Linked DNA regions of Homo sapiens. The protein of the gene in region 1 purifies or fractionates together with the protein of each later gene. This does not show direct contact. Each region holds a gene or a part of one and is shown in the gene's direction. Other genes may lie near its edges.

Region 1 (3,600 bases):
GTGGCCTGTTTGTTTTGGGGCGTGAGATGAGCATACCAGGACTTGGGGGAATGAACATGTGTGTAGTGAAGCTGGAGGGTTACAGCCTCCCCAGTTAAGGACAGTCTTCCCAGGAAGGAAAGAAGAGGTGAAAGCAGAGGGGTGGTCCTGACTGTACCCTGAGTAGCCATCAGTGACCTGACCAAGGGGAGCAGATAGCTCTCCCCTGGACAGAGAAAAGTCCGTGCAATTTCGAGACCTGTTTTCACAGTTGACATTTGGTAATCCAAATGAGAGTGTGTTTCAGATCGAAGCCAAAAAATAACAGTGCCCCCAGATGAGGGCACATGACAGTCATTGTCAATGTGTGGTGGGCTAATGCTCTGTAACTAGAAGTTTGGAAAGCCGATAAGGTATAACAGAGGCCAGATTGTCATCCATCTGGCCAGTGACAGGTGATCAGCGCAGTGCTAGGGGCACTCGGGTGATGGCATGATTGCTGTGGTCAGCTCAGAGTCCTGAGGGGAAGCAAGCGGGCTCTCACCATCTCAGGGCAGTACCACTGCTGTGCGGCTGTCAGTCAGTGCTGCAGGCGCCGAGAGGAGGGGCTTGTGACCGCCCCAGGGAAGCTGGGCATCACCAAAGGGAGCTTGTTTGCCAGGGACACTGCAAGTAGGAAGTGTCTACAGGTCGATGACAGGCCTAATCTCTATGACAGGGTCTAGACTTTCCTCAGGGTCCAGGGGCGCACCTCAGGGTGAACTGGAAAACTCGACCGCACTTTAGTGCCAGGTGGGCAGGGATCCCCATGTCAGGGTGGGAGTGGGGCGGCTGATTGGGGCTGGAAATGTAGGTGGGGAGGCGGCAGCCAGGGAGCAGGGCATCCTGCGAGAAGAGCATCCCGCTAAGGAGTCTGAACGCCATCCTGTAGGCGGGGGAGTCATCAAGGCAGGGCAGAGGCAGGACCAGATGGCCGTTTGAGGTGCTGAGCAAAGCTCCCGGTTTGCGCGGAGAGGTGAGATCGAGGCCCCTTGGGAGGCCGAGGCTTAACCAGGGCTCAAGCAGAGGGGAGGGAAGGCTGGATTTCAGAGGTAGGGAGGATAAGGACCGTGGGTGCACGACGGGGAGGGAGAGCCAAGTCAAGGTTAATGCCGGTGCTCGGGCGGATGGTGAAAGCAGCAGATGGCCTTGACCGGGGTAGAGAACTCGAGCACAGGAGCAGGTTCTGTGTGTGTGTGTGTGTGTGTGTGTGTGTAGGAGCTTTTGGGGTCACGGGAAGTACTGAGAGGTGAGGAGTGGGATTTGGGACGTGCGTAGTTGAACTCATAGGACGTCCAGGTGGAGAAGGAATCACTTCCTGTCTCTGGATCCGTCTCGATCTCTGCCTGGCGAGGGCGCGCCCCGGCTGGGCGTGGACACTGTTCTCCGGCCGCGTCGGGCCGGGCGGGTGGGGCGTTCCTGCGGGTTGGGCGGCTGGGCCCTCCGGGGTGTGGCCACCCCGCGCTCCGCCCTGCGCCCCTCCTCCGCCGCCGGCTCCCGGGTGTGGTGGTCGCACCAGCTCTCTGCTCTCCCAGCGCAGCGCCGCCGCCCGGCCCCTCCAGCTTCCCGGTAAGGCGGTGGGGGCGCATCCCCTGGCGACTCCTCCCGTTCCCTCTTCCGCTTGCGCTGCCGCAGGTGGGCCCGGTCTGTGGGCGCCCCCCGATTTCCCGCAGGTCCCGCGCGGCGTCGGAGCGGGAGATTCCCTTGCAGCTTGCGCCCCGCGGGCCTTCGGGCTCCGCAGAGGGACGCCGGCCCTGCGCGGGGCGGAAGCGGCCGGGAAGCCACGTGTCCCCGCGGCCGCGCGTGGTGGGGGAGGAGGGACCGGCGGCGCCCACGTGGCCTCCGCGGGCCCCGCCAGAGCCTGCGCCCGGGCCCTGACCGCACCTCTCGCCCCGCAGGACCATGGCCAACCTGGAGCGCACCTTCATCGCCATCAAGCCGGACGGCGTGCAGCGCGGCCTGGTGGGCGAGATCATCAAGCGCTTCGAGCAGAAGGGATTCCGCCTCGTGGCCATGAAGTTCCTCCGGGTAACTCGCCCCCGTCTCCCCTTCCCCGCTGCAGCCGGCTCGCGGGTGTTTTTCCCTCCCGGCGGCGGTTTGTCCGCGTCTGCTTTCCGAGTTCATTTCGCTGCCGCGAAATCCCTTTGCCCTCTGCCCCCGCCCACGGCGGCTTGGGCCCGCCGACCCTTTCCCGGGGTGGTGGGGACAGACGCCCTTGGGAAGGTGAAGCGCTGGTAGCGTGACTCGCCCTCCGGGTTTGGGTTCCTTCCCGCGGGCCGCTACCTGCCCACCCGCCGCAGGGGGGCAGCAGGGAGCGGAAAAACCCCGGGCCCCAGACCCCCTGCGCCTGCCCACTCGGGTCCACCTAGGCACAGAATGGAGGCTTGGAATCTCCTTTGCTTTAGTCTGAAACTCCGAGTTCCAGTGCGGTGCTCCTCCTTTAGCATAGGGTAGTGAGTGTATTTTCCACATTAAATTTGGGGCACAGATCTGAATCCCTACACTTACGGGTAAGAATCTAAGTACTGAAATTCAACCAGGCTCATCGGTGAAGAGAATGTTCTCAGTTATTATCTGAAATATTTAAAAGGGCATTGTGAGTAGCCCAGGGGAGTTTAACATGACCTCTGCCAGGCAGATGACCTGACATATGTACTTCAGTTGCAGCCAAAATTTAATTCCCTAAATCTAGATCCTCAAACCACCTACTTTTTAGGCTTACAAAACCCCTAATGTCATTGACGGTATGAGGGTGTCTTTACGATTAGAACAGTCTTGGCCAGGCGCGGGGCTCACGCCTATAATCCCAGCAATTTGGGAGGCCGAGGTGGGTGGAGCCCAGGAGTTGGAGATCAGCCTGAGCCACATAGCAAGCCCCTGTCTCTACAAATAAATAAATAAATAAATAAAAATTAATTGGGCATGGTTGAGTGCATCTGTAGTTCCAGCTACTTGGGAGGCTGAGGTAGGAAAATCACTTGAGCCCTGGAAGTTGAGGCTGCAGTGAGCCATCATTGTGCCACTGCATTCCAGCCTGGGTGATGATAGTGAGACCCTGTCTCCTAAAACAAACCAAAACAACACACCAAAAAAAGAACAGTCTTTCTGTTAAAATGGCATTAGTTTCATGGTTTGGATGGGATTTAAAAAATATTTATGTGTGTGTATATGTGTGTATATATATATATATTTCCACACACCACTTAGGAACGTGGGCTAGAATATAAAACCGGACTTGCTAATGGGAGGTTCAGAGGATGGGTTGGAGTCTTTCCAGCTTAGCTCCTAACTGGTGCCTCCTCTCCAATGCCAGGCCTCTGAAGAACACCTGAAGCAGCACTACATTGACCTGAAAGACCGACCATTCTTCCCTGGGCTGGTGAAGTACATGAACTCAGGGCCGGTTGTGGCCATGGTGAGTGCTCGTGGGGAATGAGAGAAAATGAGGAAAAAGTGCTCAGTGTTCTTTGTTAGACATCTCCCTCAGCTAATCTAAATTTTATTTTATGAATGGAACCTGCTGAAGTTACTTAACTGAGCAACTAGGAGCTTGGGAGGAGAAAGCAAATCAGACCTTAGAAA
Region 2 (2,677 bases), on another chromosome or scaffold:
TCTTCCTCAGCTTGAAGGCCTTTGTCAAGGATGTGAGAGGGCCCATGCTTTCCTCCCTTCCCGTGGAGTGGAGGGTAAGGGTGAATGTGCCTCCCAGGCAGTGGAAGACTGAGGTGACACTGAGGAAGAATGTCTCTAAGGAAAGAACTGTGGGAGGGTATATTAGCAAGGAAAGACTAAACACTGGCTTTTCACTCTGGGCTCGGAGGAAGGAGGCTGGCAAGAAGGACTGTGAGGCTTACTCTAGTGAAAGAGTCCAAGCTGTCTTCAGGCAAGACAGGAGCCTCTCTGGTTCATTGTCTCTGGTTCTGAGGGTGGTGCACGCTGAGCTGCGATAGGTAGGCATATTCTCACCTTTCCACCCCTGCTGTCCTCATCCAGGTGCTATGTGAGCTCATTAATGCACTGTACCCCGAGGGGCAGGCCCCAGTAAAGAAGATCCAGGCCTCCACCATGGCCTTCAAGCAGATGGAGCAGATCTCTCAGTTCCTGCAAGCAGCTGAGCGCTATGGCATTAACACCACTGACATCTTCCAAACTGTGGACCTCTGGGAAGGTGGGACAGGGCGAGGGGCTGGGTCCTGTCATCCAGGAGGCCAGAGATTGGGCTGGGCCCTCTTGACCAGGCAGAAGGGGCTGTTTTCTGGCTCCCTGCAGAGAAAGAGGGGTGTGTTTGTGTTCCATGGAGCACTTGGTCATATTGGAGGCTGGAATGGAGAAGGGTATGGAAATGAACAGTAGAAATAATTAGGAAGCCAGGCCTGCTGACTTAGCGATAGAGGCGGAACCCTGGTATCTAGGACACTGCGGAGGCTGACACATTCCCATTCTCCTTCCCAGGAAAGAACATGGCCTGTGTGCAGCGGACGCTGATGAATCTGGGTGGGCTGGCAGTAGCCCGAGATGATGGGCTCTTCTCTGGGGATCCCAACTGGTTCCCTAAGTAAGTATTGCTGGGACAGCCGCAGGGTCCAGCAGGTGCATTGTTTCTGCCCAATCCTGTCCCTAGGAAATAACTTATCTCAGTAGCAGCTGGCCCTTTACAAAGCACTTTCAGAAAATTCCTCATCTCACTTAATCCTCACAACACCCTCTGGGATGGCAAATGACTGTCCCTTTGGACAGATGAGGAGGTGGCTTCAGAGAGCTTATGGCTCTCGAGGGCAGAGCTGGCACCAGCCCTTGAGCCAACAGCAAAGCCTGTGCTCTGTCCAAGGAAGGGATTTACTAGGGCAGCCTGTGATCTCCTCTAACCACCACTCCCTTGTCACCCAGGAAATCCAAGGAGAATCCTCGGAACTTCTCGGATAACCAGCTGCAAGAGGGCAAGAACGTGATCGGGTTACAGATGGGCACCAACCGCGGGGCGTCTCAGGCAGGCATGACTGGCTACGGGATGCCACGCCAGATCCTCTGATCCCACCCCAGGCCTTGCCCCTGCCCTCCCACGAATGGTTAATATATATGTAGATATATATTTTAGCAGTGACATTCCCAGAGAGCCCCAGAGCTCTCAAGCTCCTTTCTGTCAGGGTGGGGGGTTCAGCCTGTCCTGTCACCTCTGAGGTGCCTGCTGGCATCCTCTCCCCCATGCTTACTAATACATTCCCTTCCCCATAGCCATCAAAACTGGACCAACTGGCCTCTTCCTTTCCCCTGGGACCAAAATTTAGGGGCCTCAGTCCCTCACCGCCATGCCCTGGCCTATTCTGTCTCTCCTTCTTCCCCCTGGCCTGTTCTGTCTCTGAGCTCTGTGTCCTCCGTTCATTCCATGGCTGGGAGTCACTGATGCTGCCTCTGCCTTCTGATGCTGGACTGGCCTTGCTTCTACAAGTATGCTTCTCCCACAGCTGTGGCTGCAGGAACTTAATTTATAGGGAGGAGCCTGTGGCAGCTGCTGCCCCAGCCACAGCTGCACTGACTGTGCTCACCACACATCTGGGGCAGCCTTCCCTGGCAGGGGCCCTCGTGGCTTCTCATTTTCCATTCCCTTCACTGTGGCTAAGGGGTGGGGTGAGGGGATGGAGAGGGAGGGCTGCCTACCATGGTCTGGGGCTTGAGGAAGATGAGTTTGTTGATTTAAATAAAGAATTTGTCATTTTTGAATGGACTCTGGCTGTGTCTGGGGCCACTGTGCCACTGTGGGGAAGGGAGGAATACTGGGCAAAGTGCAGTGAGTGATACAGGAAGGAGGGCAGAGATGAGAGGTTGCAGTGCTAACCCCTGTCTTGAGTTTCCTCCCCATCCTCATTCTCACTTGCTTTGGGGGGTGGTGTAGGTTGGAATTGAGAGGGGACAGGACCTCACAGCTGAATGCAGACTATGTAGGCAGTGTCCACAGGGAAGTAAGGCCCTTTCTAGTCAATGGAATTGGCTAATCCTGCCTGCTGCCTTTGGCTGGGTCTGCCTCTACAGTTGGAACAGCTTCTCAGTCACTGAGAGGGTGGGGCTGGCTGCTGGCACAGCCATCAGTCCTGGCAAGTGAAGCTGTCTCCAGGTGAGAGGTCCCTCAGGCGGGCTTGGGGTGAGGTGGTCTGTGTTGGAGTGGTGAGGGTGGGGGTTGCAGTGGTGAGGAAACGTGGAGAGCTGGGGAATGAGCAGGAGTGAGTTGGTGGTGGTCGCTGGAGGGAAGAAGCCGTGTTGATTGATCCTAAGCACCTGTGAACTAAGTGCCTGG
Region 3 (3,728 bases), on another chromosome or scaffold:
CTCAGGAAGCTGAGGTGGGAGGATCACTTGAGCCCAGGAGTGCGAGGCTGCAGTTTGCTATGATCATGCCACTGCAGTCCAGCCTGGGTGACGAAGTGACACCGTATCTCAAAAATAAATAAATAAATAAATAAATAAATAAATAAATAGCTATTTTTTACCTTCAGATCAATGGAAAGCCACTGGACTGTTCTAAGTATGGTGATCAGATTCATGTTTATGTAGAGGATGAATTGGAGGGTAAAGGTGATGGGCAGTTGGTATGGGCAGTCTTGTTGTATTAGAACTGCAATAACAAATTAAATTCAAAATCTCAGTGACTTAACACAGTAAAGATTTGTCTCTGTCACGCAGAGTCCAGAAGGGTTGGGCAGCCTTCTCCTATCATGAAGTATGCTTACCAAGGTCATCTTGGTGGGAGAAAACAGAGCTTTAAGATCACTTTTATTTAACTTTTATTTAATTTTTGATGTTTTAAAAATCATTTTATTGTGGTAGGATTCACATCTAAAAAGCTGTATTTAGTGTATTTAAAGATCACTTTTAAAGGGCCAGGACTGGAAGTAGTTTACATAACTGGGCCCAGCTTGGCTGTTCAGAACTCAAATGGCTGTTCAGAACTCAGTCATACAGCCAACTCAGCTTGCCAGGAAGGCTGGGGAATGCAGTCTTTCCTGTTCAGCCAAGAAGAGAAAACAGTATGATGTATACATATCCTAATCTCCCTCCTCTGCAGCCACTTGAGGAGTTACTGCAGTCCAAGTAAGAGGCAATGGAAGCTTGGACTGAGGGTGAAATGAGATGAATGTATCAGAGAAAGATGAAAATCCAAAGAGTAAGATAATGGAGGAGTTGCTAAGAACATCTCTTAGGCTTGGAGCCTTATGTGACTAGGAGGGTGGTGATAGCTACTGAGAAAGGAAGACTGGTTAGAAATGGACCAGCTTGTTTTTTATTTTAGACATGTTGTGCATCACATGCCTTTGAGACACACAACTGGAGATGTGAGATAGGAAGTTGAATGTAAAGACTAGAAGCTCAGAAGAGCAGAAGTCTGAACTAAGTTTTGGCTTAGATGATTGAAAGCTTGAGCTTGGGTAAACTCTCTGAGGAAGAATGCAGAGTTCGTCCTTTCCTTCCACACTGCCATCAGCCTCTGCTTTCCACTGCATTGTCCTACCACCCTCACCCCTTGACCTCAGCTGACCTTTTGGAGGTCCCCAGAGCCCTTTTTCTTGTCCTTAGGTAGTTCCTTTTGGAACTCCCCGTCATAGCTGTTCTGAATTGTTAGTAGTAGTAGATTGGAGGAGTGCCCTCAAACCCATCCTACTCCTCCTGCCTTATACTTCACAGAGAAAATAGAATCTTTCAGACACAATTTTTGGCAGTGTATCTTCCTTCCACCTCAAAACTGTCATTTTCCCTTCCTCCCTGTTTCAGAGAAAAAAATGTGTATCTTTTTCTTAGGCTAACTCTCCCATCTGTGCTGTGGATCTTACCCATTTCTTTAGATCTCTGATATTGTTAATTTTATGAGTGATTAAGATTATCTCCTCTGGAATTGCTTGAACCCAGGAGGCAGAGGTTGCAGTGAGCCGAGATGGTGCCATTGCACTCCAGCCTGGATGACAAGAGCGAACGTCCATCTGGAAAAAAAAAAAAAATCTCCTCTGGAGCCAAATTGCCAGAGTTCAAATCCCAATTCCTCTATTGTTTACTCTGTGACCCTGGGCAAATTATTTAATTTTGCTATGCATCTTTAAGATGCAAATAGTGATAGTAGCTGTCTCATAGAATTGTTGTGATTTAGAAGTGTCTAGCAATAGTAAGTACTCAGTGTATGTTTTAATTTTTTTTTAATGTTTTGGCTCTTCCTCTTTATTCCTTCAAGTTCTTAAATATCTAGAACAGTTACATCTCCCCAATCATAAGACAACTTGCATGAAGTACCATTCAATCTTCCCTTTTTTCTTCATTGTTAACCATCTTATGTTTTCTGTCTTTACCTCTTCAATTCCCCATGGGTCCCCAGTCCATTATGGTTGACTTCTGTCCCATTTCTCCCATCTGTTGAAATGTTCAGAGGCCCAATTGCCAAGCCCAGCGATCTGTTTTCATTCTCTGAAATACTGCAGAATTGGCTGTTGATGACTTTCCTCCTCAAAATATTCTCCCTTGCTTCTAAGATGCTGCTTTCTTCCTTCTTTTTCTTCTTAGTTTTCTGATTACCTCTTTTTAGTGTCCTTGATGGGTTTCTCTTTTTAATTTTTACGTACTCAGTGGTGAGAAACTAGATTGGTTTTTCTTTTGCTGCTTAATGTTGGTGACCCCATGGTGTGGGCTAGTCCAAAATATGGATTAGGTGAAGCCTTCCAACGAGATCCGTGCTCATATTTCTGCCACTGTCTGGTCATCTCCACCTAGATGTCTTGCACAGTCTTCAGAGTGGATGTGTCGTACTGTGCCATATTTCCTTTTCTGTTCATATATTGCAGTCTAGTCACTAATCGAGAGAATCCTGGGGCTTCTCTGATACCACTCTTTTGTGTCTCATTCAGCTATATTGGTTTGACTTTGACATGTCCTTGAATTTTTCTGTTTTTAACCTCACTGCTGTAGTTCAGAGCTTTCTTCTCTGAATATTTGTAATTGTGTCAAAATTGGTTTTCTGCTTCCAGTTTCTGTGCCAGTTTCTCCTTCAAGTATTCAGTGTTAATTTCCTCAAGCACAAGTGTCTAATGGTATAAGAAACCTCCACAGACATCACTTCTGATAGAAAAAAAGACAAAATTCTTCCTTACTGAGGCTTTTAAGGAGCTTGTAAGTTACAGCCAGATTTGGCTGAGATTTATCTGTTTTATAATTGCAGAATGCACATTTACTTTGTTTTTGATTACTAGTACATCATTGATTTAATTTACAAATCAGAATTTAGAATGTTTGAGATGCTTAGATATTGATTGATGTATTTAAAGATTGGTTGATTGAATATAAGGCTTTAGATGTTGCCTTCCTGCTTTTAGAAATTGCTTGTTGGGTCAAATGTGACTTCAACATTATGGACTAGGGAGTTAGAGGGATTGGGATCTGTTTCTAGTTCTTCAATTTTTGTTGCTTTGAACATTTTATTCATCTGTTGCAAAATGGAGATTCTTAACTTGCTTAACATAAGATACGTTGTAAAGATCAGAAATATGCTACTCCTAAAGCAGTAAAAGGTTTAAGAAAAGTGCTTTTTAAAATTAGGAATGTGGTAATATTGTGTACTTATGAGTTTTCTAGTCCTAATTTTCTGTTTCTGCCACTTTATTAGAGTGAATGTTCATTTATGAACAGAAAATGTGGAGTAGATGGCATTGGAGTGTGTTATTTAGAGATCTTTAATGAATGAGATGATGAAATAGCCCAGTTACCTTAATATTAAGTAAATGCTAGGATCTTAGTGTATCTTTCTCCCAGGATTCTTGCATGTGTTTTAAAGTGACAACTTTATTTTTATTTGTTTGTATAAATGTATGGGGGTACAAGTGTAATTTTGCTACATGCATGGATGGTAGCAGTGAAGCCAGATCTTTTAGGGTATCCATCACCCGAATAACATACATTCTACCCATTAATTAATTCCTCATCCTCCCCTGGCTCTCCATTGTCTTTTATTTCACACTGTGTCCAGGTGTACACATTATTTAGTTCCTAAGTGCGAACACATGGTATTTGTTGTAATAACT

What was found.
Region 2: the proteins of NME2 (region 1) and TAGLN2 fractionate together in Homo sapiens (co-fractionation; one large-scale study listed by BioGRID). This does not show direct contact.
Region 3: the proteins of NME2 (region 1) and DSTN fractionate together in Homo sapiens (co-fractionation; 2 studies listed by BioGRID). This does not show direct contact.

The regions. Positions count from the first base shown.
Region 1 is NC_000017.11:51,164,911-51,168,510, forward strand, and holds the start of NME2 (nucleoside diphosphate kinase B), read left to right. Parts: upstream 1-1,500; 5' UTR 1,501-1,587; intron 1,588-1,590; exon of another isoform or gene 1,591-1,653; intron 1,654-1,811; exon of another isoform or gene 1,812-1,916; coding exon of another isoform or gene 1,917-1,920; coding exon 1,921-2,046; intron 2,047-3,331; coding exon 3,332-3,433; intron 3,434-3,600. Other genes in the region: NME1-NME2 protein, read left to right, coding at 1,917-2,046, 3,332-3,433. UniProt on the Homo sapiens protein: Major role in the synthesis of nucleoside triphosphates other than ATP. The ATP gamma phosphate is transferred to the NDP beta phosphate via a ping-pong mechanism, using a phosphorylated active-site intermediate.
Region 2 is NC_000001.11:159,917,540-159,920,216, reverse strand, and holds the end of TAGLN2 (transgelin-2), read left to right. Parts: intron 1-381; coding exon 382-556; intron 557-840; coding exon 841-943; intron 944-1,275; coding exon 1,276-1,417; 3' UTR 1,418-2,106; downstream 2,107-2,677.
Region 3 is NC_000020.11:17,593,971-17,597,698, forward strand, and holds part of DSTN (destrin), read left to right. Parts: intron 1-3,728. UniProt on the Homo sapiens protein: Actin-depolymerizing protein. Severs actin filaments (F-actin) and binds to actin monomers (G-actin). Acts in a pH-independent manner.